Regions from separate parts of the Homo sapiens genome. Here regions 1 and 2 are each linked to region 3. Evidence: fine-mapped expression QTL. A gene starts in region 3. Each other region holds a variant in brackets. All regions are shown on one strand. Distances are between the middles of the regions. Region 1 holds the start of LOC124906096 (a long non-coding RNA gene). Region 2 overlaps GPR155 (G protein-coupled receptor 155). Region 3 holds the start of GPR155 (G protein-coupled receptor 155).

Region 1 (8,184 bases), 36 kb after region 3:
CTCTTGGCTCTGATCTCAACCCCAATATGTCTTGTTTACTGTTAACCCTCTGAGTACAAGCCCTCTGAGATTAGTGAGTCTGTCCCATTGGTTCACCCCTGTATTTCCAGGTCCTAGAATGTCCCAGCACATAAGAGGGACTCAATAGCTCTTTGTGGCATAAATGAACTAAACCATTCATAGATTTATTCTCTTTTGAAATAAAAAGGAATACACTGTCACAAAATGTATTCACTGTCACAAAATGCATTTGCCATGTGCCTATTCTCATGGTTTCACTTCTTAGGGTTTTGCCAAAGAATCTGCTCTTAGGGGTTGCATTAGGTTCACTGTCACAAAAATGCATTTGTATTCACAGTCACAAAAATGCATTTACCATGTGCTTATTCTCATGGTTTTACTTCTTAGGGTTTTGCCAAAAAATCTGCTCTTAGGGGTTGCATTAGGTTCCAATGGCTGCTATAACCAAGTGGCACAAAATGAGTAGCTTAAAACAACAGAAATGTATTCTGTCACCATTCAGGAGGCCAGAAGTCCCAAATCAAAGTGTGGGTAAGCTTAGTTCCTCCTAGAAGCTCCGAGGGAGAAACCTCCTCATGCCTCTTTCTTAGCTTTTGGCGACCCGGCAATCCTTGGTGTTCCTTGCCTGGTGGGTGCATTGCTCCAATCTCTGCCTCCGTCTTCACATCACTTGCTTCTCTGTGTGTCTCTGTGCTTGCTGTTTTGACTCTTATAAAGACAATCATTAGATTTACGGTCCACTCTAATCCAGTGAGGTCTCGTCTTGATCCTTAACTAATAACATCAGCAGTAACTCTATTTCTATACAAAGTTGCATTCTGAGGTTCTGCATGGATATGCACTTTTCAGAGACACTACTTGCCCCACGCTAGAGCTTTAGAATACAACACAGAAACTTACAATCTACTCTTGCTGTAATGTAATGCACATACGTTGTTTTTTCGGTGGCCAGCAACCAAGAGCACCCTTCCCAGGAGTACCCCAATTTCCTATTGCATCTTCCAGTTGGAGGACAGTCTTGATCGGAATGTAACTCAATATTTCTCATCTCCTCTCTGCAACCAAGGAGCTACATGTGACCCAAAGTAAGACAACTGGACTCCTGGGATAACTTCTTTTCCCAAATGTATGCTATTTTATGTTTTGGCAAACTTTCAAGAGAGCTTTCATTCCATACTAAATTTCCTTTTTTTTTTAGAGAGAGAAGATCTCTGTCAGTCACTCAGACTGGAGTACAGTGGTGCGATCACCACTCACTGTATGCAGTTTTGAACTCCCTGGCTCAAGCAATCCTCCCACCTTAGCCTCCCAAGTAGCTGGTACTACAGATGTGCACCACCACGCCTGGCTAACTTATTTATTTATTTATCTGTAGAGACACTGTCTCACTATGTTGCCCAGGCTGGTCTCGAATTCCTGGACTCAAGTGATTCTCTTGCCTTGGCCTCCCAAAGTGCTGGGATTACAGGCATGAGCCACTGCACCTGGTCTCACATATTTTTAGTACTATAAATCTGTGAATGCCCAGCAAACATCAAGCAGACTGTACTCTTGGAACTTTTCATCTTGAGTGGAGGCGCATAAGGAATGGGAAAATATTGGAACACATATACTGGAGGAGCAGCACCCAGATAAGATCCTTCAGTTGTTCATGCTGCCTGGACTCCAGGAATTGCCTTCATTCCTGTCTTGTGTCCTGATTTGGCTCTCCAGCCTCCCATCTATCCTGAGTTCCTAGCTAGCACCCTGTTAAAAGTCTCTTTTTGCTTCTGTTAGTCAGAATCCATTTCCATCATTTGCATCCAAAGACATTCAACTATTACACCGAGATCCAAGATTTTTTTCAGCACTGTCGCTGTTTTGCATATTTAGCTCTGAGTTCTGACATGCTGAGTTTACTACTATATGAGATACTACCTTCAAAATGTCAATTTCATCCAAACCCACACATTAGTGCAATTACAAGACAGTACATTAGCATTATTATTAATTTATTTATAACCCAGCTTGTTCCAAAAGGATTTCATTGTGTTAAATTATCCTACAGAGGTATGGCAAGAAAAAAAACATTTAAAATAAGGAACAAAAATGAAACAAAGGAAGAATAAGAGGTAGAAAAGTGAGATGAAGCCACAAGAGAACCTAATCCATAAAAATGGTTACTGCCAAGGCTAGACAATAGGTAGGGGAAAGATGCAGTATCGTGAAAAGGTCTGCAGGCTACAGTTGTTGCCATGGTATTTGGCAACAATATTTTCTATTTTTCATAGTTCCTTCTCAACCTGAATTTCTGTTAAAAGCTTGCAATCTCTCGACATTGAAATGGGACCATGAGATAATTAAGCAGTTGCCAAATGGGAACTAACTGAATAACAGAAAAGAATACATTTGCTTAAAGTCTTTACGTTATTACTTTAAAGATGGTAAAAACCCTGAGATATCTGCTTTAATCTTCATCTCTCTTTCTTTCTCTTTCTTTTGTTTTTTTTGGTTAATATTAGTCAAAACCTGGAAGCTGCAGTGCCTTATTTCAAGTTATGATTTTTTAAATTTTGCTTTTCACAATAGATGGACCTTGAAAAATTTATTCTGTTATCTGTTTTTACAAATTCAAACACTCTAAATGGAAGACAGAAACTATTTAAAAGAAGATTTATAGTCAATCTTTTTGCAAACCAGGCATTACATTTTTACTTATTATTTTAGCGATGTGGGGTTTTCACATGTTATAGAAATGTCAGTTCCCGTCTTGCAGTTTTTATCAAGAAAGCAAAGCTCAGATTTTAAATGCAAATACTGCATAAAGATATTGCTCATACATAGTAACATAGTAAACACAATCATGCTGATCTTCATTATTGTAATGACGATTTTCCCATTTTAATATTTATTGCATTTTTTTTTCTATCAAACCTTTTTCAAAAAGGATCGGAGGCAACTGTGGAATACATCACAAGTGCCACCTAGTGCTTCCTTTGAAAATAATGCTTTTTTTTTTTGGTCTTCAGAAATAGGAACAAAACAAGATGTAGAACACCCATGCTCGTAGGCTGGATCTTGCTTAAGTAGTTCTGCTTCCTAAAAATGAGTGCATTTGTTTTCAGCCAAAACATATGTTGAAAGAAGAATTTGGAAGTGAGTTTCCTTGACTGTGCTCAGACCTCCCAATACTGCTTGGTTTTAATTCTACATAGGTAGACATGGCATTAAGTAAAGGATGCTAAAGAAAGGAAACATAAAATAAGGAATTTCATTAAACAAGAAGTAGCAGTAATTATTTCAAAAAGTATTTTTTCCATCTCCCAGTAGGAGTTGGCATCTTACTAAGTTTGATTTCCATCATCATCATCATCATTATTATTATTTTTTGAGACTGAGTCTCGCTCTGTCACCCAGGCTGGAGTGCAGTTGCGCAATCTTGGCTCACTGCAACCTCCACCTCCCGGGTTTAAGCAATTCTCCCGCCTCAGCCTCCTGAGTAGCTGGGATTACAGGTGCCCACCACCATGCCCGGCTAATTTTTGTATTTTTGTAGGGACGGGGTTTCACCATGTTGGCCAGGCTGGTCTTGAACTCCTGACCTCAGGTGTTCCACCTGCCTCAGCCTCCCAAAGTGCTGGGATTACAGGTGTGAGCCACTGCACCCGGCCCCATCATCATTATGCCCCAAATGACTCCTCTTCCCCATTTTCCCCATCTATAAAGCACTGTGACATCATCATCACCACCACCACCATCAACCACACGCATCAGCTGAGTGCCTATGGTGGTAGGCCTCAGAGCTGGTTGTCAATAAAACACACTCAGGCTTTAGGCTCTGCCTTCAAGGAGCCTAAAATTAACCTGTGAAGAGGAAGAGGAAAAGAAGAAGGAGGAGGACAAGAATGAGGCTGAAAAGTATGTGTACAATGATCAAACAGCAATACTAGATAAAAGCTTTCACCATTTTCCTGGTTCACAGACCAGAAAACTTTGGAACCATCCCCTCTCCTCTATCCAATCCTGGTACTTGGGTCCTATAGCATCCTCCTTTGGAATGCCTTCCTGATTTGTTTTTTCCTTCCCTATTGTGGGTTTACTCCTCCACCTCATACCTGGAAAATGGCAACAGACATACCACTTGGCCTCCTTCCTCTCCTACTGCCAGGCTACCTTGCCTAAAATGCTGCCTTTAACTTTTCATTCTCTTCCTTAAGAACAAGTTGTGGCTCTCTGGTGCTTCTCAGACCACGGGTACACATCTCAGAGCCTAATTTTGAAGATCTTTCCTAATCTACACAGACTTTATTCAATTTGATGAGCCATTACACTGCAACACTAAATTTTTACTCCTAGAGAGCAGGTCTCTCTTTACATTGGAAGCAAGGGGGCACATTATGCTTTCATTTCCTTTTTAAAAAATTATGTTTTTGTTTTGTTTTGTTTTTTCTTTTCTCTTGAGATGGAGTCTCCCTCTGTTGCCCAGACTGCAGTGCAGTGGCACAATCTCAGCTCACTGCAACCTCCACCTCATGGGTTCAAGCAGTTCCCCCACCTCAGTCTCCTGAGTAGCTGAGACCACAGGTGCCCGCCATCATGCCCAGCTAATTTTTGAATTTTTTTAGTAGAGACGGGGTTTCGCCATGTTGGCCAGGATGGTTTCAAACTCCTGACCTCAAGTGATCTGCCCACCTTGGCCTCCCAAAGTGCTGGGATTACAGACGTGAGCCACCACTTCTGGCCAATGGTTTTTTTTTTTTCTTGTGGTATTTCTAGCTGCCTTTTTTTTTTTTTTTGCACCTCTTGTGTCATTTGCCTTTATAATATATTCAACCTTTTTTCAGTTACTTCATTTTATTACTTAAAACCATTCCCCTCCTCCATGTACACTTTTTTCACTGGTGACTTTCCTCCTGCGGCGTCACCTTCTCCTCCAATCTCTACTGGTTACTCTTTCATCTTGCCTCATAGCAAGTCACATTGCAACTTCCCTTTCCTGTTTTTTGGGTTTGTTTCACTGTTTTCTGGATCACTGGTCTTCCCC[T/C]TTCTTCATTTTCTCCTTGTTTTGCTGCAGAATATTTTTAAGCAATTTCCCAAAAATGGGCACATGGGAGGTAATTGCTTCAAGTCCTTGCATGTGTGGAAAAGTGTCTTTATTCCACCTTCACACTTAATTGTGCTTGCCTGGCCACACTATTGCAGTTCATAATCATGTTACCAATAACAGTAGCTATTTCCTCGTTGTGTTTTAGTACCTTTTTGTCTTAGTCCGATTGTGCTGTTATAACAAAATATCATAGACTGGGTAATTTATAAAGAACAGAAATGTACTTTCTCACAGTTCTAAAGGCTGGAAGTCCACAGTCAGGGTGCTGGCAGGTTCAGTTGTCTGGTGAGGGCTGTCCTCTGTTTCCAAGATGACTCTTATTGCTGCATCCTCCAGTGGGAAGGAACGCTGTGTCCTCTCATGGCAGAAGACAGAAGGGCAAGAGAGCTGAAAGCTGCCTGAAGCCTGTTTTATAACGGCCTTCATCCCATTTGTGAGGGAGAAGCCCTCATGGTCTAACCACCTCTTAAAAACCCCACCTCTTAAGAGTATCACATTGACCAACAAGGTTTAATCTAACATCTGAATTTTGGAGGGGACACATTCAAACCATAGCACAGTGTTGCTGATGAGAAGTCCAATGTCAGTCTGACTCTTGTTCTTTGTAACATGGAAGATAAATTGTTCCAATTGCACTGCTGTCAAGTTAAATCCTAACAACCCATTTCCCATTTCTAAAATTGAGACTCACAGGTCACACTGTGCTTTTAGTGCTAACTAATGACATATCAGAGTCTGGCTCTGAAAATACAGAACTTCATAATTTAAAAAAATGTCTAATAAAGAGGTGAAAAAGATATTTCTTCTCCATAGCAACTAGAGAGAGGGAGAGAAAGAGATCGTTTCATAGCTTAAAACTTTGTAAAAGAATCTGATGAGGTAAGATGTTAAATGTGAACTCTCACAAGACATCAGTCTTATTTCCAGTGTGATATAAAGTCTTGCACAAATATTCCCAACTTCTACCCACTTTTTCTGTTTTAAGTAAATTTATCATTGAAATTATTATTGAACAAAGAAGTCCTGTAGATGCTAGAAATTTTAGAAATTGTTGCCATATAGCGTAAGCATGACCTTCAACAACATTAGTAATTCTGGCTCATAGTCTTACTTGTTGGTTTGTTGCCTTGGTGATAATGTAGTTGATGCCTATGTTCCCAGTGATATAAACATTAACAGGGTTTCTCAGTCAAATCAAAAAGAGGATTGGCTTTCTCTCCTTTTTCCTATTTGCATAATGGACAAATAAAAGTCTATTCTGCTAGAGTCTTCAACACAAAAAAAAGTTTAAGGTCTTGTCCTAGTTACATCTCCACAGAGATACCAGTTGCTTCAGCATTGTGACTTCTCAAACTAAGTGTTGGTTTTACAAGATGTTTTATTTAGGATACCTGAGCACTATTCACAACATGGTACCTTTTCAGTATTATTTGCAACATGTATTGTTTAGATGCCCTTAAGGAAACTTTGGAAGGGGGAAGGAATATTTGATATCAGTGTAAAAGGCAAAGGGGGGCCGGGCATGGTGGCTCACGCCTGTAATCCCAGCACTTTGGGAGGCTGAGGCAGGTGGGTCATGAGGTCAGGAGTTCGACACCAGCCTTACCAACATGGTGAAACCCCGTCTCTACTAAAAATACAAAAATTAGCAGGGTGTGGTGGCAGGCACCTGTAACCCCAGCTACTCAGGAGGCTGAGGCAGGAGAATCACTTGAACCCGGGAGGTGGAGGTTGTAGTGAGCAGAGATCACGCCACTGCACTCCAGCCTGGGTGACAGAGCAAGACTCTGTCTCAAAAAAATAAAAAATAAAAAAAAAAAGGCAAAGTGGTAGTTCCCTTAATTTACAAAAATTCAAAACCAAAAACATTTTCTATATTACCGTAGTATTAAATCTTTACTAAATGTATTATTGTATAGAGTAACCAGCTCCACAACATAGACTAGTAGAAAAAAATAATGCTGTGGAAAGAAACCTTTTTCAGGTCCATATGAGCCTTTATATCATCATTGAAAGTGATCTAATAGACAGTAGATAAACAGAATGGAATAGAGTCCAGGCATAGACCCGTACACAGAGGATTACTTAATTTATCACAAATATGCCAATGAAATTCAGTGTGGAAAGGAAGGGCTTTTCAATAAATGGTGTTGGTTCAAAGGATATTTGCATTTGAAAATTGGATAAATGTTATCAAATTATTCCTTAGAAAGCTTATACTAATTTATAGTCTCACCAACTTGATTGAAAAGTGTTCTGTGGTCTATTCATGTAAATGTTCAAAGATGTTTGCAAAGAATGGATATTTTGTTTATTGGGCACAAAGTCCTCTTTCTATGTGTGTGTATAATGCATTGTATTTATTATTCAAGCAACAAGGGTTTATTGAATGCCTCTGTACATGCTAGGTACTGTTCTAGGCCCCAGGGATTTGGCCGAAGGCAAAGTAACCTACTTTCTTGGAGCTTACATTCTTGTAGGGGAAGACAGATAATAAAGAGACAAAAATAATATAGTTTCACATGGTTGTGTAAGTTGTGTGAGGGAAAAACCCATCAGTTTAAGAGGATAGAGGGAGACTGGGGTGAGGGCTGTATTTCAGATCCGAGAGTCAGGGAAGGCTTCTCTGCATGTTGAGAAGGAGGGAGCCACGTGGTCTGAGGGGAAGGCATGTGTCCCAGGCAGAAGCTCAGGGAGTATGTGGGAAAGGGTCAGAGGGAGGCCAGGGTGGCTGGAGAGTGTGGGAGATGCTCAGAGAGGTAGGTAGGCAGGGGCCATATCACACTGGCCTTATTGACCATAGCATGATGTTTAGGCTTTGTTTCAGTGTAATGGGAAAGCATCAGAGGCTCCTCAGTCCTGCTGTGGCATGATCTGATTTACGTTAAGAGATAATTTTGTGCTGTGGGGAAATGAATTGGAAGGGGACAAAAGAAGCAAAAAGACTGAGTTGCGGCCACGGTGACAGTAGCATGGACTAGGTGGTAGCTGGGGAAGTGGTAAAATGTGACCAAGCTTAGTCTGTATCTGGGTGATATAACGAGATGTGCTGATTGTTTGGATGTCAGAAGTGGGGT
Region 2 (8,184 bases), 26 kb before region 3:
GCATGGTGGCACACACCTGTAGACCCGGCTACTTGGGAAGCTGAAGAGGGAGGATTACTTGAACCCAGGAGGTGGAAGCTGCAGTGTGCCAAGACTGCTCCACTGCGCTCCAGCCTGAGAGACAGAGAAAGACTTTGTTTCAAAAGAAGAGAAGAGAAAGACTTTGTTTCAAAAGAAGAGAAGAAGAGAAGAGAAGCACCATACAATAAATAAGTTAATATATTTGATTACAAATCAAGACACAAAGAAATCTCAGTCCTGATAGGCTTAGGCAAATACTGAAGTCCTGTCTTAGACTTTTTTTGAGACAGAGTCTTGCTCTGTCACCCAGACTGGAATGCAGTGGCACGATCTCAGCTCACTGCAACCTCTGCCTCCCTGGTTCAAGCGATTCTTCTGCCTCAGCCTCTGGAGTAGCTGGGATTACAGGCACCCGCCACCACACCTAGCTAATTTTTGTATTTTTAGTAGAGATGGTGTTTCACCATGTTAGCCAGGCTGATCTCAAACTCCTGACCTTGTGATCCGCCCACCTCAGCCTCCCAAAGTTCTGGGATTAGAGGTGTGAGCCACCGCACCAGGCCTTGACTTTTTTTTTAAAGACAGGATCACGTCTATTGCCCAGGCTGGATTGCTGTGGCGTGACCATGGCTCACTGCAGCTTCGACCTCCTGGGCTCAAGCAATCCTCCTGCCTCAGCCTCCTGAGTAGCTAGGACTACAGGTGTGTACCACCACATCCAGCTAATTTTTTATTTTTTGTAGAGTCAGGGTCTCACTATGTTGCCCAGGCTGGTCTTGAACTCCTGGGCTCAAGCAATCCTTCCAAAGTGCTGGGGTTACAGGTGTGAGCAACCATACCCAGCTTTGTCCTAGACTTTTAAAAGCCAGATGCAAAAATTCAGGATTGGAGAGAAACTGTTCAGTAATGTACTCGGGGTGGGAGGCAGGTTTTTAGTTGCTCATAAATTCAAGATGAAATCATCAGAATAAGTTAATGCAATGTTAGGCAGAATTAAAAGTTTCTTTTCTAAGTAAGGACAGGAATGATTCTCTTATTCTTCACTCAGTCAACAAGCATTCATCAAATATTGAATGCTCACTGTGTCCTAGGACCATGGTAACTGGAATGTTATATTCAGATCTAAGCATCCCATTTTAAGAGGTACACTGAGAAACTAAAATGAATCCTTGGTGTCTCATGCATCTCAAACTTAGAAGGGTCAAATTGAACTCATTATCTTCCCCTACATATTCTGTTCTCTGTGAATTCTTCTTAGGTAATACCCACAATTATACATTCACTTAAACTAGATTTCTGGAAGTTGTTCTCAGTTTCTCTCTTAGCCCTCACCCAGCTTCTAATCAAGTACCAAACCCTGTCAATACAACTTTGCCTGAGTTTGGCCTCTCCTGTTTATCCAATACCTACTGCCTTAGTATAGGCCCCAAAGACTCAACTCTGCCATTATAGCATGAAGGTAGCCATAGATGATATATAAATGAATGAGCATGGCTATGTTTCAATAAAATTATGGACATGAAATTAAAATTTCATGTAGTTTTTAAGAGTCACGAAGTATTTGTCTTCTTTTAATTTTTCTTCAACCCTTTAAAAATGTAAAAAACATTTTTAGGCTGGGTGCAGTGGCTCACACCTGTAATCCCAGCACATTGGGAGGCCGAGGCGGGTGGATCACCTGAGGTCAGGAGTTCTAGACCAGCCTGACCAATATGGTGAAACCCCATCTCTACTAAAAATACAAAAATTAGCCAGGCGTGGTGGCGTGCGACTGTAGTCTCAGCTACTGGGGAGGCTGAGACAGGCGAATTGCTTGAACCCAGGAGGTAGAGGTTACGGTGAGCCAAGGGTACTGCACTCCACCCTGGGTAACAGAGCGAGACTCTGTGGCAAAAATAAATAAATAAACAAACAAAGAAAAAAAACATTTTTAGCTGGTGGACCATACAAAAACAGGTGGTGGGCCAGATTTGGCCTATGGACTATAGTTTGCCCAAAACTGACTTACATCATTAATCTGGCTTTAAACAGGCCTCCTTTAGTTCATATTATTGATGGTGCTTGCCTGATACAATATTGTTAAATTAACTTATGTATGTGCTTCGTTTCCTAGTTAGGGCCTTCCTTCAGTTGTTACTTTTTTCTATATTCTCAGGTCCAGGGAAGTTTTAGGATTTAACAAAAGTGTATACTCACAATAAGACTTATAAACAAAAATCTAATGAATAATTTTACAAGCAAGTTTGTTGACTATGATTCAAATTCTTCATTTGACAAGCACTCATGATATTCAAACTAGTTCAAGGAAGTTTCCCATAAACAAAACATTTAGGATACATGCTATAAAGGCATGTAGCAGTTTCTTTATATTTAAAGATCAGGCTGGCTCATGCCTGTAATCCCAGCACTGTGGGAGGCCGAGGCGGGTGAATCGCCTGAGCTCAGCAGGTCGAGACCAGCCTGGGCAACATGGCGAAACCCCATCTCTACTAAAAATACAAAAATTAGCAGGGCATGGTGGCAGGCACCTGTAGTCCTAGCTACTCTGGAGGCTCAGGTGGCAGAATCGCTTAAACACAGGAGGCGGAGGTTGCAGTGAGCTGAGATCATGCCACTGCACTCCAGCCGGGATGATAGAGCAAGATTCTGTCTCAAATAAATAAAAATAAAATTAAAAAGATCATACTTGTTTCTGGAATAGAGCTTGTAAAAAGTTCTGGTTCATTTACTGGTGCTGGACTCTCCTCAAAAGCAGTATTTCCAGGCTCCACCACTTTGTGGCTCTGAGACTGATCGAAACCTTCATAGCTTCCTGCTTGGGCAGTCTGGTTCATGCACATGAGGGATATGCCAGCTATCAGGATGCTGCAGAACAGGGTGACTGCTGTGGTGATCATCTGCCGACATGAAAAAAAGATATCAGGCCACTTTTCACAACTTCATCTTGATAATCTTAGGGCACATTTTTTTTTTTTTTTTTTTTTTTTGAGATGGAGTCTTGCTCTGTCGCCCAGGCTGGAGTGCAGTGACACAATCTCGGCTCACTGCAACCTCTTCCTCCCAGGTTCACGCCATTCTCCTGCCTCAGCCTCCCAAGTAGCTGGGAATACAGGCGCCCGCCACCACAACCCAGCTAATTTTTTGTATTTTTTAGTAGAGACAGGGTTTCACCGTGTTAGCCAGGATGGTCTCAATCTTCTGATCTCGTGACCCACCCGCCTCGGCCTCCCAAACTGCTGGGATTACAGGTGTAAGCCACCGCACCCAGCCATCTTAGGGCACGTTTTTGATGGACAATATATCTCCACAGTTTTAAATACTCTAGAACAGTAGCTCTTTTAAAAAGGTAAGTGTATATAAGGAATGTAAGTTACTTGGAGAGAAATTAGGGTTTGCTTGTAATTACACAAGGTTTTAGATGCTTCTTTCATGTATAACAATTGGTTACCAACACAGCCACTGGTTTCCTTTACAAGGAATCTAAATGATTTCTCTCCGATGTTTTCTTTACTCCTGTTTCTGCTCACTTCCACGTATAATTCACGCATACTTCAGTCACTAAGATGTTTTTATGGTAATGATATTAAAAATAATTATAGCTAATATTTATTGAGCACTAACCAGATGCCAAGACTACTCTAAATCTTTTATATGTATAATCTTATTTATTCTCACAAAAACACAATAAAATCCAAAATTGCAAAACAGAAAAAAAGAGTAAGAAATCAAAATTATGTGGAGAGGCTTTTTAAAAACACATCTTTGGACTCCACTCCTAAAGAATTCTGCAGGTCCCACAAGCCACCTACTCTATAGCTTTTCAAGAATATTTTTCCTAGATACGTTTTGTCCTGAAATTTATATTTATGATAGGATTAAGAGTCAAGAATTTGACCTTTATTATTACTGCTAACTTATTAAATGGTTTTAAATTAATCACTCTTTTCTCCAGCACAGGAAACACAATTCCTAAGTGTGATTAAGAACATTCAATAAGTTTTAAGCATTTAGAAATCTTCAGCTAAAAATGGACTTAGACATGTAAAATGTTCATGTTCTAGATGAGACAAAGTGATATAGGATCACCAATCTGATATGCAATAAATTGAAATAGATTTTCAAAGTTAATTTTAATATAAGTCTAGCAAGGCACATAACGAGCTAAAAAGAGACATTCTCAAGAACAGAACTGCCAGTAAACTCTTCCCACCTGTTCTTTTCCATAAAAGAAGGCTGAGTCAATGCTATCTCCATTGTGTTTTCCAGTTATCAAAAGAACACCAACAAGGAGAGCAGGAATTCTGTAATCACAAGTGATATTGGGAGAGAAAAAGAAAG[G/T]ATGAATAGTAACTGTCTATATGGAAAGGTGTAAGCAAACAGAGAACTACCAACTTACCCCCAGCCAGATATTATGATTATTCCAACAGGAATTTGTACCCTCTCTCGCTTTTTCAAAAGAAACAAAGAAATTGCTAGAAGGCCTAAGAATAAGAAGATTGAAAGAGAGACAGTTACTCAACATTGATCAGACTTTATGAAACTTTATTTCCTTTTTATTTTTTTAAACCAAGCTTATTTCATAGTAGTGTGTGGTTTTTGCTTTAGAATTTCTTCCTTCTAAATAAATGCTATCCTCAATATTTTGAAACAAGTTTTAATTCAAAATCATTCATTGTTTCCCTCATATATTGTTTCTTTACTCAATTCTTTTTATCTGTGAGGATTTATTTTATTTTCTCTCTGGTTTTTGTTGTTTGTTTTTTGGATAGGGTCTCACTCTGTTGCCCAGGCTGGAGTGCAGAGGTGTGATCACAGCTCCCTGCAGCCTTGACCTCCAGGGTTCAAGTGATCCTTCCACCTCAGCCTCCTGAGTAGCTGGGACCACAGCCACATGCCACCATGCCTGGCTAAATAAGAATTTTTTTTTGTAGAGACAGAGTCATACTATGTTGCCCTAGCTGGTCTTGAACTCCTGAGCTCAGTGGATCCTCCCACTTCTGCCTCCCAAAGTGCTGGGATTACAGGCATGAGCCACTGCGTCTGGAGAAGTATTTCTCTCCAAAAGCCCTAATCATTTTATTGTTTTGATTCATGTGTTTGGAATCTAAGTATAACTGAAAAACATTTTTTTTTTCTTTAGACAGAGTCTTACTCCGTTGCCCAGGCTGGAGTTCAGTGGCATGATCTTGGTTCACTGCAACCTCTGCCTCCCGGGTTCAAGCAATTTTCATGCCTTAGCCAAACAAGTAGCTGGGATTACAGGTGTGCACCACCATGTCAGGCTAATTTTGTATTTTTAGTAGAGATGGGTTTCACCATGTTGCCCATGCTGGTCTTGAACTGCTGGCCTCAAGTGATCCACCTGCCTTGGCCTCCCAAAGTTCTGGAATTATAGGCATAAGCCATTATGCCCAGCTGAAAAACATTTTTTAATTGAATACAGGACAATTCTAAAAATAAAAACATCCCCCTCTTCTGGTGCTAAGAAGTATGGGCAACTCTTACCCAGGTTATGTTTTTAGAAAACGCCCTAAGTGTAATGATAGCACTTAATACAAACACACTCTGAATTTAATACAAACACAAATGTTTTGAAGTTCTTGAACTTTCCTTACAACTTATATGTAATTATGTATGCAAGTAACATTTTATTTAATAAATTCTACATAGTTATAGGATCTTAGAACTTTAAAGTTGAAAGGGACCTCTATTTTTAAATGAGCACCTTAGATGTGGAAATGAGGGTTTGCCCAAGTCATACAGCCAGCAGAGGGCAGAGTGAGACTAGAAACCTGGCCTTTTGACACAAGCTAAATTCTTTGTTTCTTGAATCAGTTTCTCAAACTCAGATTTGTGGACCCCTAGGGTACCTAAGACATATTCTTCAGGATCTGGGAATTTCTATGAGAAATTTTAAGTCTTTTTTTTTTCTTTCTTTTTTTTTTTTCAGTGGTAGTCAGCTGTGTATCCACCTTGCAACCAACATGCAGTCTCATGATTTCAGAATTTACATTGGGTTTATTTTTATTTTATTTTAGAGATGGGGGTCTCACTTTGTTAACCAGGTTGGGGTACAGTAGCACAATTACTGCTCAAAATTCTGGGCTCAAGGGATCCTCCTGCCTCAGCCTCCTGAGTAGCTGGGACTACAGGCATGTACCAGCATGCAAAGCTAATTTTCAAATTTTTTATAGAGAGAGGGTCTTACTATATTGCCCAGGCTAGTCTCGAACTACTGGCCTCAAGCGATCCTCCTGCCTGGATCTCCCAAAGTGTTGGGATTACAGGCATGAGCCACTGTGCCTGGCCAGAGCTTACAATGGGTTTTATATTAAGTTTGAGTCAAGTGAAGGCCAAATGATATTACAACGCACAGTCCAAATGAAATGGTAGTTTGAAGAAAGAATATCAGTGAGATAACAAGGTCAAAACCCCACATATGGAAGTAAAGGCAAGGCAAAAAAGCCATAGCAGTGAGTTCCATTTTATGTTTCAAGCTATGATTTACATTAGCAAAACAAGATCCTTTGTCATGTTAATTAATGTTGCTAATTAGAATTACTGGGTTTGTAGTTTTGTTTGAATAGAATCTGTGAATTTGCTTTGGTTTTAGAATTGCATATTAGCTGTATATAAAGAATACATACCTAGATTTAAGATTGTCCAGATTAAATAACACTGTGCTAGATTTAATATAAATTGACATTGAGGTCCTTGAGAATTGGTTTTCTTTACCACTTTTCCTCCCTCAATCCATTTGTACACTGTGTAGTTGCAGTGCCAGGGAAACAAGTAACCAATCACAAAAGGGTGCCATCTTTGTTACAGTAGCAAAGGCAGTCTTTAAAATTCTAATGTGCATCACTCCTGCCTTGTGAAAAGAACTATATACAAACAGGCAGAATCCAGCTAGCCCTGGATGTCTCACTGAAGCTGTGAGAGCTCCTGCCTAAATCAGTCTATCTTTTTGGGCCTATTTCTCAGTTTGCAAAATGAAGGATTTAAATTAGACCAGTGTTTCCTAAGGTGTAGAGATTATAGGTGTCACAAAGGTGAAAATGTTTTGACTAGTTATATGTTTATTTTAATGCATATTTGAAAAAAACTAATTAGCAAATGAAACCTGGGATTTTACTGATATAAGGCTCAACTGATTAAAGTTTAAAAAAAGTAAATCAATTTTAAGGAAAAAAGAACAAGTAGTATGCAGATATGGCAAAAATTGTGAGGATGGTATGAAAATGAGTAGAACTAAAAATGATCGAATGGGATGACTTAAAATGACATTTTCAGGTCTAAAATTCTGTCATAGCATAATAACCTGATGGTTAAAGGGCACCTTTATTGGGTTTTGGGAATTCAGAATGACTTCTTTGAATAGACTTTGGCGTGCATGCTTGAAGGGGGTTTCAGAGAGACTTAGGACATTTTAATTGATTGATCTAGTTGCTGCTCTGTTATTCTGATTATAAAGTTAACCTGAGTAAGCCTAGTTATTAGACATCAAGTTGGTCCATCGATATTTTGAAATATAAAGTCTTTAGGCTCTTTTAATTTGACATTGCATAAAAACTCATGCTATGCAAGATGTAGTTGCCTTTAAGAAGCACAAACCATCTTCTGTTTGTGCTGAATTTTTCATTCCATGATTCCTCACCACATTGTTGCTTCACTTCAAAAGGCTGTTGACTGAGATGGGACCTGCTTTTGATCCTGAAGGCATGAAATCAAAGGTCCGTCCTTTGTGGACACTTCCTGACACCTGCCTCCTACCATTCTACTATTTCCTTTCATGTGCCATTTTATAGGTTCAAATTTGTAGGATGAATACAAAACAGCCAGACAGAATTTTTCACAAACATACCAGAATGCATGCATCCACATAAATATTATACTTCAAAATAGCAATGTGCTACAACATTTTGAATATCCTTTTTGGAGCCAGCTGAAATGAGAAACAGTCTTTCTCACTGGGTCCTTTTCTATTTCCATGCCTTTTTATTCCCCTAGTTTTCTTCTTCTCTTATTACCTCTAATTCTTCTATTTAATAACTAACATAGTTCTATTTATTTAGTGCCTACCATGTACCAGACATAAATACTCAACATTTCAGTTTGTCCTCAAAGTAACTCTGTAAGGTGCTGTAACCTAGTTTTACAAAT
Region 3 (8,184 bases):
CACAAAATATGTCTAAAGGTGTTCATGAAATGTTAAAAAATACAAAATGTTTTGTAAAATGTTCTAAAGAGGTTCAGAAAATGCTAAAGCATGGAACAAATTCAAAACACGAATAGTACAATAATTATCAGACCCCCTCTTGCTGCCAGGAACACAATGAACATGAGGTCTGGATAACTCTAAAGCTAATCAGCTTTTATTAGTATCTTGAAATTAAAATGACGACAATTGCCAATTTCTTTTTCTTTTTTTTTCAGATGGAGTTTTGTTCTTGTTGCCCAGGCTGGAGTGTAATGGCGTGATTGCGGCTCACCTCAACCTCCGCCTCCCAGGTTCAAGAGATTCTCCTGCCTTAGCCTTCCCGAGTAGCTGGGATTACAGGCATGCACCACCATGCCTGGCTAATTTTGAATTTTTAGTAGAGACGGGGTTTCTCCATGTTGGTCAGGTTCGTCTCAAACTCCCAACCTCAGGTGATCTGCCCGCCTCGGCCTCCCAAAATGCTGGGATTATAGGTGTGAGCCACCACGCCCAGCCAACAATAGCCAATTTCTAAGTGATTATTCTGGGTTTACCATCTAAAGTAGACTGATATAAGGTAGAAAGTAAAAAGCTCATGCTTCCAGAAATTTACAATGCTCAGGTTAAGTCCTCAAACATCTATATCACATTAAAAAGACTTAGATGGCAGCCCAGAGATCACCAACAACTGATAGCTGGCGTGGGTACAAGGGAATTTTCTCTGTGCTACCCTTGTATAAACCGAACCATTTGAAAACCTTATATTTAATCTGGATTAGGACAAGTATTTTCCTACTAGGATTAGATAGCAGTGGTCAATATAGTACATGAAACCTACACTACTCACATACTTGAAGTTTACCAAATAAGCATCAAATTATATCTTGGGAAAGCTACCGGTTGGTACAGATACACATACTTGAAGTAAGGAGCTGGTAAACAATTAAACAAAGGCGTTAAACATTTGGAGCCCTTAAGACGGTGTGTACTTGGAAAGGCAGTGCTAAACAGGAAAGTGATAAATTAATCCAGTCTTCTGTTCACTTTCAAAAGTGCCTAGAGTATTAATAACTCATTCTGCTTATAAGCCCTTACTTGTACAACACGAGCATGTCAAGGCATTCCAATAATATTTTTTAACCAACAGTTTAAACTAGCAGAAGTTCAGTGGAGAGTCAAACAGATTCTGAGCTTTATGGTTTATCAACTCATAAGTTACTTAGTCTTTCTGAACCTTTGTTTCCTCAACTGTAAAATGAGAGTAAAAACCTCCCTATAGGGATCAGTCATAGCAGCTCACGCCTGTAATCCCAGCATTTTGAGAGGCCCAGGCAGGTGGACTGTGTGAGCCCAGGAGTTTCAGACCAGCCTGGCCAACATGGCAAAACCTTAGTCTCTACAAAAAATTAGCTGAGCTTAGTCATGCGTGCCTGTTGTCCCAGCTACCTGGGAGGCTGAGGTGGGAGGATCACCTGAGCCTAGGAGGTCTCTGCAGTGAGCCATGATCACACCACTGCACTCCAGCCTGAGTAAGACCCTGTCTCAAACAAAGACCTCCTTAGAGGGATATTGTGTGGATAGAATATTTTATATACAGCTTATCACAGAGTAGGCCTTCAAAAAACGGCAGCAATTGCTATTAGGAACTGTTGTCTTACTACTAATAATGATAAAAAAGTAAACATGTTAGTTCTTCAAACATAACTGGTAAAAGATCCACCAACTAAAAAAAGAGGGATGGGATGCGTCATAAATTTATCAGTTTTTGTTTTATACCAAACAATTAAGATAAGTTGAATTTAATTTGGTTTGATAGTAAATGGTTAACAGTGAAGGCAGAGCTCTTCATTTTTCTCAGGGTGATGGTCAAATAGTTGTAGCAATGTCCAAGATTAACTTTCAATTCGTTGAAAAATTAAAAAACAAAAAAACAAAACAAAAAAAAGGGCCGGGCGCAGTGGCTCACGCCTGTAATCCCAGCACTCTGGGAGGTCGAGGCGGGCGGATCACCTGAGGTCGGGAGTTGGAGACCAGCCTGGCCAGCATGGTGAAACCCTGTCTCTACTAAAAAGACAAAAATTAGCCGGGCTTGGTGGCAGATGCCTGTAATCCCAGCTACTCGGGAAGCTGAGGCAGGAGAATCTCTTGCACCCGGGAGGCAGAGGTTGCAGTGAGCCGAGATCCTGCCATTGCCCTCCAGCCTGAGCAACAGAGCAAGACTCCGTCTCAAGAAAAAAAAAAAAAAAAAGCAATCTGCCCCTCCCCATGAGGTTTCTTTTAACGTTTCTCAGTATTATAAAAGAAATACCTGCTGAGGTAAAGTCAAAATAATCAAAATGACTTTAAAAGTTTCATTTCATCCTAATCTTTTTTAAACGGGAAGATAATATGCTTTCTAAAGCATATTTTAAAATGAACAGGAACCACAGCAAGGGAAGTTTTAAAAAAAAAATTACATCCAGCCTTTTTATCTATAAAAACAAAGCTTGTTACAGAACAAACACGTTCACAGTAAAAGACCACTCGCTGAGGCACGAACTGAAGAAATGCTACTGTACTTACAAACCGCTTCTAGCCACATCACATTTGGCTTAGATCACATAAACGAACCACTGATACTGTAAATAACTGCTATTAAGTGAAAATGCGGGGGGAAGGCGAGGGTTGACTAACTTCATAGAGAAAGCTTTAAACTCTCAGGCTATTTCTCAAACATCCAACATCCTTTATCCCGTGGGATAAGTGTAATACAGTGTGGTACTATTAGAGCACTCTTCAACATTAATAGTCGCACCATTCACCCACTCCTACCTACTTGCAGGGCGCCAAATGTCCTCCCTAGAGACCCAGGGTAGGGAGCGCTGAGCACTGCCTCCTTGCCTCGTCTGCAGGGACAGACTGTGGCCCTCCAAGATAAGGGGCGCAGAGAGTTCCTAACCGAATAGGCTGCTCGGAGAGCAGCTGCCAGCCAACCCCTGGGAAGGCAGCTGTGGAAGTGGAAAGGCAGCCAGGGGTCTTTGCCTGGCGTAAGAAAAAGGTGGTCGCTAGTCTTCCCAGGGCACGGGAGTCACAACGTCATGGTAACTAACATACCCCAAAAACGGGTAAGGGAGAAAATTTGGCGCAGTGCTCCAGGTGCCTGGGCAGAAGCCTTCGGAAGGGCCAGATACTGAGGGTACCCTCGGGATAAAGGGAAGAGTCTAAGAAAGACAGGGTGGACGCCCGTGCAGTGAGGAGCTTCCCAAACTAGGGATGGCAGTTCTGTCTCCGGAGGGGACGAGACACCCCCTCCCCCGCGCGAGCCTTCCCGGGTGATCTCACACGTTCCACAGGCAGGCGCTGCGGGGCAGAGACAGCAGGTCCAGACAACGGGCCGCGGGGCCAGGGCGCAGAGGGTCGGCGGCTGCCCACGTGCCCAGGCCTGAGGGGCAGAGGCAGGGGTACCCCGTGCCCGCAAGGGAGAACCAGGACCCAGCAGGTCCGCGCTCCAGGGGCCCCTCTCACCTGCTTCGTCTGCAACCTTGGAGTGGCGAGGAGAAGGGAGCTGGTGCTCGCAGGGTGCCAAGCAGGGAGAAGACCACCGTCATCTCCCGCCCCCAGCCCTCTTCGCCGAGCGCAACCGGGTGCCAGCTGCAGCAGCTTAGGCACGTTCCGATAAAGTAAGGTGGGGTAAGCCGATGCGGCCCTGTCAGCTCAGCCCCTCGCCGGCCGCGAGGCCCCGCCCCCGCCCCGCCTTCAGGCCCCGCTCCCTCCCAGCCCCGCCTTCAGACCCCGCCCCCAGCCCCGAACTTCCAGCAAGACGGGCCGCTTCCCGCCCTCGAGCCCCGCCCATTTCCAGGAGCCTTGAGCCCAGAGTCTCCGTCCCGCCCTCAGGCCCCACCCACAGCCTCGGGCCTCCGAGCCACACGTTCCCCAACCCCGCCTTCAGTCCCCGCCCCCTCCTCCAGCCTCGGAGCCCCAGGGTACCCGGCCCCGCCCTGCCGGCTGGGAGCCTCCCAGCCGCGATCCTCCGGGGCGGGACTTCCGGCTTCCCTGCTCCCACAAAATGGTAGCCGCCGTGGGGGATGTCCAGTTTTTTTTCCTCTTCCCAAGTACAGACGCAGAGCAGACTTGTCTTTCCGCTTAACCTCAACCTCGTGTGATCTGCCAGTTTCGCTCCCGGTTAGCCCAGGACTTTTTATAGCATAGAGTTTTAAAGCAAGGGCTTAGAATCAGACCTGGGTCAAAATCCTGCCTTCCACCTTCACCAAGGCAGTGTGACCTTGACGTTCCTACATAAGAGATTAAAATGTAAACCCTTAGCCCTGAGCTTGTTTTAGAATCTGGGCCCCGTCCATGACTGCTTCTATTCTATTGCGGTACGGGGGTGGGGTGGGGGTGGGGAACTACATGCATGTCCACTCAGTATACTGAAACTGGTTACATTGATGGAAAACTTCCAAAGCTTCTTGAAATAAAGGTATTGAAACTATCCTCACAGGGTTTATAAGAATTCTGGACAAAAATATAATTAAGCATTAATCAGGCTACACTTTGACCCACTTCCTTGTAACCCGAAAGTCGGGTAGAGCTAGATAGTACATTTGTATCCCGTTGTCCCTATAGATAGGCTTTCTGATGTTAAGAGTCGTAAGGCTTTTTAAGAATTGCTTAAAATGTTTTTCAGACGCCAAATTCCAGCGAAACAGCTGATGCCAGCCAGCTTGAAGACCCCTGCCACAGAAGAAGGGAATCAGCATGAGAATACAGCTTCTTCATCTCGCTGTCCCATGACTTCGCCCTGTACTCTTCAGCCAATTAATGATCTCCACACTTGGGACCACTCTAAAACCCTTAAGAACCTGAGACTCAAAGTCCTCCTGGAGACGAATTTGAGGTTTCCTCCTATCTGTGTTTGGTGGCCCTATGATTAAACCTCTTTCTCTTCTGCAACCTGGTGTCCCAGTGTATTAACTTGCCATGGGCATCAGACAACAAACCTATATATAGTATCCCAAATATGGTGCTCCACTTTGAAACCTGAAGAAATCCTGCAATTGAGTTAGCCTTTTGAAATAAAAATTATTTCAAATTTTAAAATATTTATATATGTTTCCACTTAAGATATCTACAAGCATTTGTTTACAACCTTTTATCTTGCTTTGCATCTTAAACATTTCTGTATGGCAATTTCCGTGTCTTCCTATCATCTCGGCCATCTTAGTGCAAAGATACAAAATTGTGTGGCTTATTAAGAAAAATTACAGTAAGCTAAGGGTAGGTTAAAGGATCTGAAACTTAGCAGGAAAAATGAGCAGAAATTAAAGCTATAAAAGGCATGGATCCTGCTCCAGTTCTCTTTGCTTCTCCTTTGTTCTCTGTCTTCCTCACTTTTAACTGCCTTCTTTGTTTCCCTTGAACCTGACTACTTAAAAAAAAAATTGAAGATCTAAATTATCTCAAGGCTAAAAGGATTTTTGTTTAGGAAGTATGAAGATTAATTCAATTAAATAAATACTTATTGAGCATTGACTATCAGGGGAATACTGGAAGATAGGCCTGCAGAGGTAAGTTACGGTCAACCTGTAGGAGGTTCCTTGGGTTAGTTTGAACCTTATCCTTTGGCCACAGTAAAACATGTAACTTTTCTTTCCCCACAGGAACATGTCAGAATGATCACACTATTTGTGGGTGTGTAATCTGGAAGCTGTACCATGATTAGTTGAAAGAGAGACTGAAGGCAAGAAAAACAGTGTGGTGACTTGGAGAAGAACCAAGACATAAGGAAATGAAGACCTACTCTTGGGTGATGACAGTAAAAATAATGGAATAGGCCTGAGAGACAGGAAAAGGGAGAACTGATGAGACTCAGTTACTGATAGGGCTAAAGAGGAGGAAGGACAGGGCAAGGTGGCTCACGCCTGTAATCCCAGCACTTTGGGAGGCAAGGCAGGAAGATCACTTGAGCCCAGGAATTCAAGACCAGCCTGAGCAACATGACAAAACCCCATCTCTACAAAAAATACAAAAATTAGGCTGGGCGCAGTGGCCCAGGCCTGTAATCCCAGCACTTTGGGAGGCCGAGGTGGGTGGATCACCTGAGGTCAGGAGTTCGAGACCAGCCTGGCCAACATGGTGAAACCCCATCTCTACTAAAAATACAAAAATTAGCCGGGCGTGGTGGTGTGCGCCTGTAATCCCAGCTACTTGGGAGGCTGAGACAGGAGAATCGCTTGAACCCGGGAGGCAGAGGTTGCAGTGAGCTGAGATCGTGCCATTGCACTCCAGCCTGGTGACAGAGCAAAACTTGGTCTTTAAAAAAAAAAAAAATTAGCGGGGTGTGGTGGCACACACCTGTGGTTCCAGCAACCCAGGCAGCTGAGATGAGAAGATTGCTTGAGCCCAGGAGGCGAAGGCTGCAGTGAGCCAAGATCGCACCACTGCACTCCACCCAGAGCAACAGAGTGAGACCCTGTCTGAAAACGACAAAAAAAAAAGAGAGAGAGAGAGAAGGAAGGATTTAACAAGCTTATGTATTTCCTCATCCATTAAAATAAAGAAAAGAAATTGAGCTAGAGAGCTTCTAGTATCCTGTCCAGCCATAAAATTTCGTTGTTTTCTATTATTCTGTTACCTGAAAATGAAAGGAAGAACTATTTCAGTGGGAGAAGCAGTTTCAAGGAGAAAATAATGAATGTGGTTTTAGACCTCAAATCTAAAACCTTGAGAAATTTTCTAGTTCAGTTTTCTCTCTTGAAGTTATCATCCTCTCCATCTGAGACTCTAGGAGATTAAGCAGTTGGTCTAAGAACACTCAACTAGTCCATGACAGAGAATGAGAATAAAAGCCCCCCCGTCCTGTAAACAAACTTCTCATAAAGGCATCAGCACATGTATGTAGAGATTTCCGGTAGACCCCTAGGGAGAAAACAGAAAAGAGAGAGAAAGAGCAGAAATAAAGATATGGTTTGAGAAGACATCCGTACAGAATTGATGAAGTTTCTTGTGGAAACCTCATTGGTGAGGTTTCCTTCCACAGAGCAGCTTGTGGAAGGAAACTCTAAGAACAAAATGTAAACAAAGATGAAAGACTTCATTAAAAAGTCACCCTCAGAGAAGTAGTTACCAATGAACGCCACGAGAAACTAACTTAATTCCACTGCCATATCTGCTAATCATTCTGTGAGATGCTGACTTATTCTATACTATTAACTGGAAAAAATGAAGAAAAGCTAAAAGTAATGCAGAATAATGGAGGGAAAACTGTAAATTAATCATAACTTTCATTTACAAATAAGTGGGACCTATAAACTTCAAGCACACTGATATCCCGATTTCCCTCAAGTCCCGCTGATCAAAATTGACAGGAGAAACAAACCAAATGGTTTGATACAATGACAAAGGTCATGTAGGATATATGTTGAGGCAATATGATGTACATGTGGATTCCTGGTGAATTTTATCTTTTCCAAAATGAAGTACTTCTAATGTTTCTTTCTATGAAAGTAATAACAATGATAACATATTCAGATAATACAGAAAGGAATGAAGAAAGTGAAAATCATACCTATGGATAACTTCTTTAATATTATACCATATATGTATCATTTTATGCAAATATAGATTATTTAAGAAAAATAGGATTATACATATGATTTTCATACACATGATTTTAGTCACTTCTCATTTAGTAATACCTTTTTAATCCATAAACAATTTATTCATATAGATAGATTTATATCATTTTTAATGCCTATTAAATACTCCCTAGCGAAATTTTGAGGATGATCTTCTTCGAAAAAGTGGAAACTGGGCCATCTATAAAGTCTAATCAAAGTTGAGTAAAGCATAGAAAAATAAAAGAGAGTGACTTAAAATGTGCTGTTTGAACATGTCTAGTACGATGCCAGATTTTGTTTAAAAACTTTTAGTTTCTTTAAAACTCCCCTTCCCCTTCCCAATAGCATCATTTTCTCTTTAGGGATTCATGTTTCCAGAGAAGTTGACTTCACTCTCCCTTCAGAGATGATGTAACTAATGTAGGCTGTCCAATCAGTGTATTTCATCCCTTTGCACTTAATGATTAGTCAGGGTAGGCACTGATCCTGAAGTAGCTCAGCTGAATAATTTTCAGGACTTTTGCAGAGAATGCTGATCTTCTCTTTCTTGCTAGACAAGAGGAAG

Evidence for each region.
Region 1: its variant is fine-mapped to the expression of GPR155 in whole blood (TOPMed, PIP above 0.99).
Region 2: its variant is fine-mapped to the expression of GPR155 in whole blood (INTERVAL, PIP 0.97).

The regions. Positions count from the first base shown.
Region 1 is chr2:174,519,756-174,527,939 of GRCh38, forward strand. It overlaps LOC124906097 (a long non-coding RNA gene), which reads right to left. Exons shown (of 3, transcript XR_007087309.1): 3 at 1,468-3,241. LOC124906096 (a long non-coding RNA gene) reads left to right here and starts at 3,662. Exons shown (of 4, transcript XR_007087308.1): 1 at 3,662-3,918. The variant T/C (reference allele first, on the strand shown) is at 5,045.
Region 2 is chr2:174,457,171-174,465,354 of GRCh38, forward strand. It overlaps GPR155 (G protein-coupled receptor 155), which reads right to left. Exons shown (of 16, transcript NM_152529.7): 8 at 4,418-4,502; 9 at 4,232-4,322; 10 at 2,708-2,918. Among named protein-coding and RNA genes, the nearest start is that of GPR155, 26 kb to the right of the region's middle. The variant G/T (reference allele first, on the strand shown) is at 4,360.
Region 3 is chr2:174,483,348-174,491,531 of GRCh38, forward strand. It overlaps GPR155 (G protein-coupled receptor 155), which reads right to left and starts at 3,682. Exons shown (of 16, transcript NM_152529.7): 1 at 3,526-3,682. It overlaps GPR155-DT (GPR155 divergent transcript), which reads left to right and starts at 4,041. Exons shown (of 3, transcript NR_183819.1): 1 at 4,041-4,069; 2 at 4,688-5,567; 3 at 5,661-8,184. RefSeq lists silencers at 3,197-3,379, 3,643-3,822 and enhancers at 3,233-3,302, 6,473-6,572.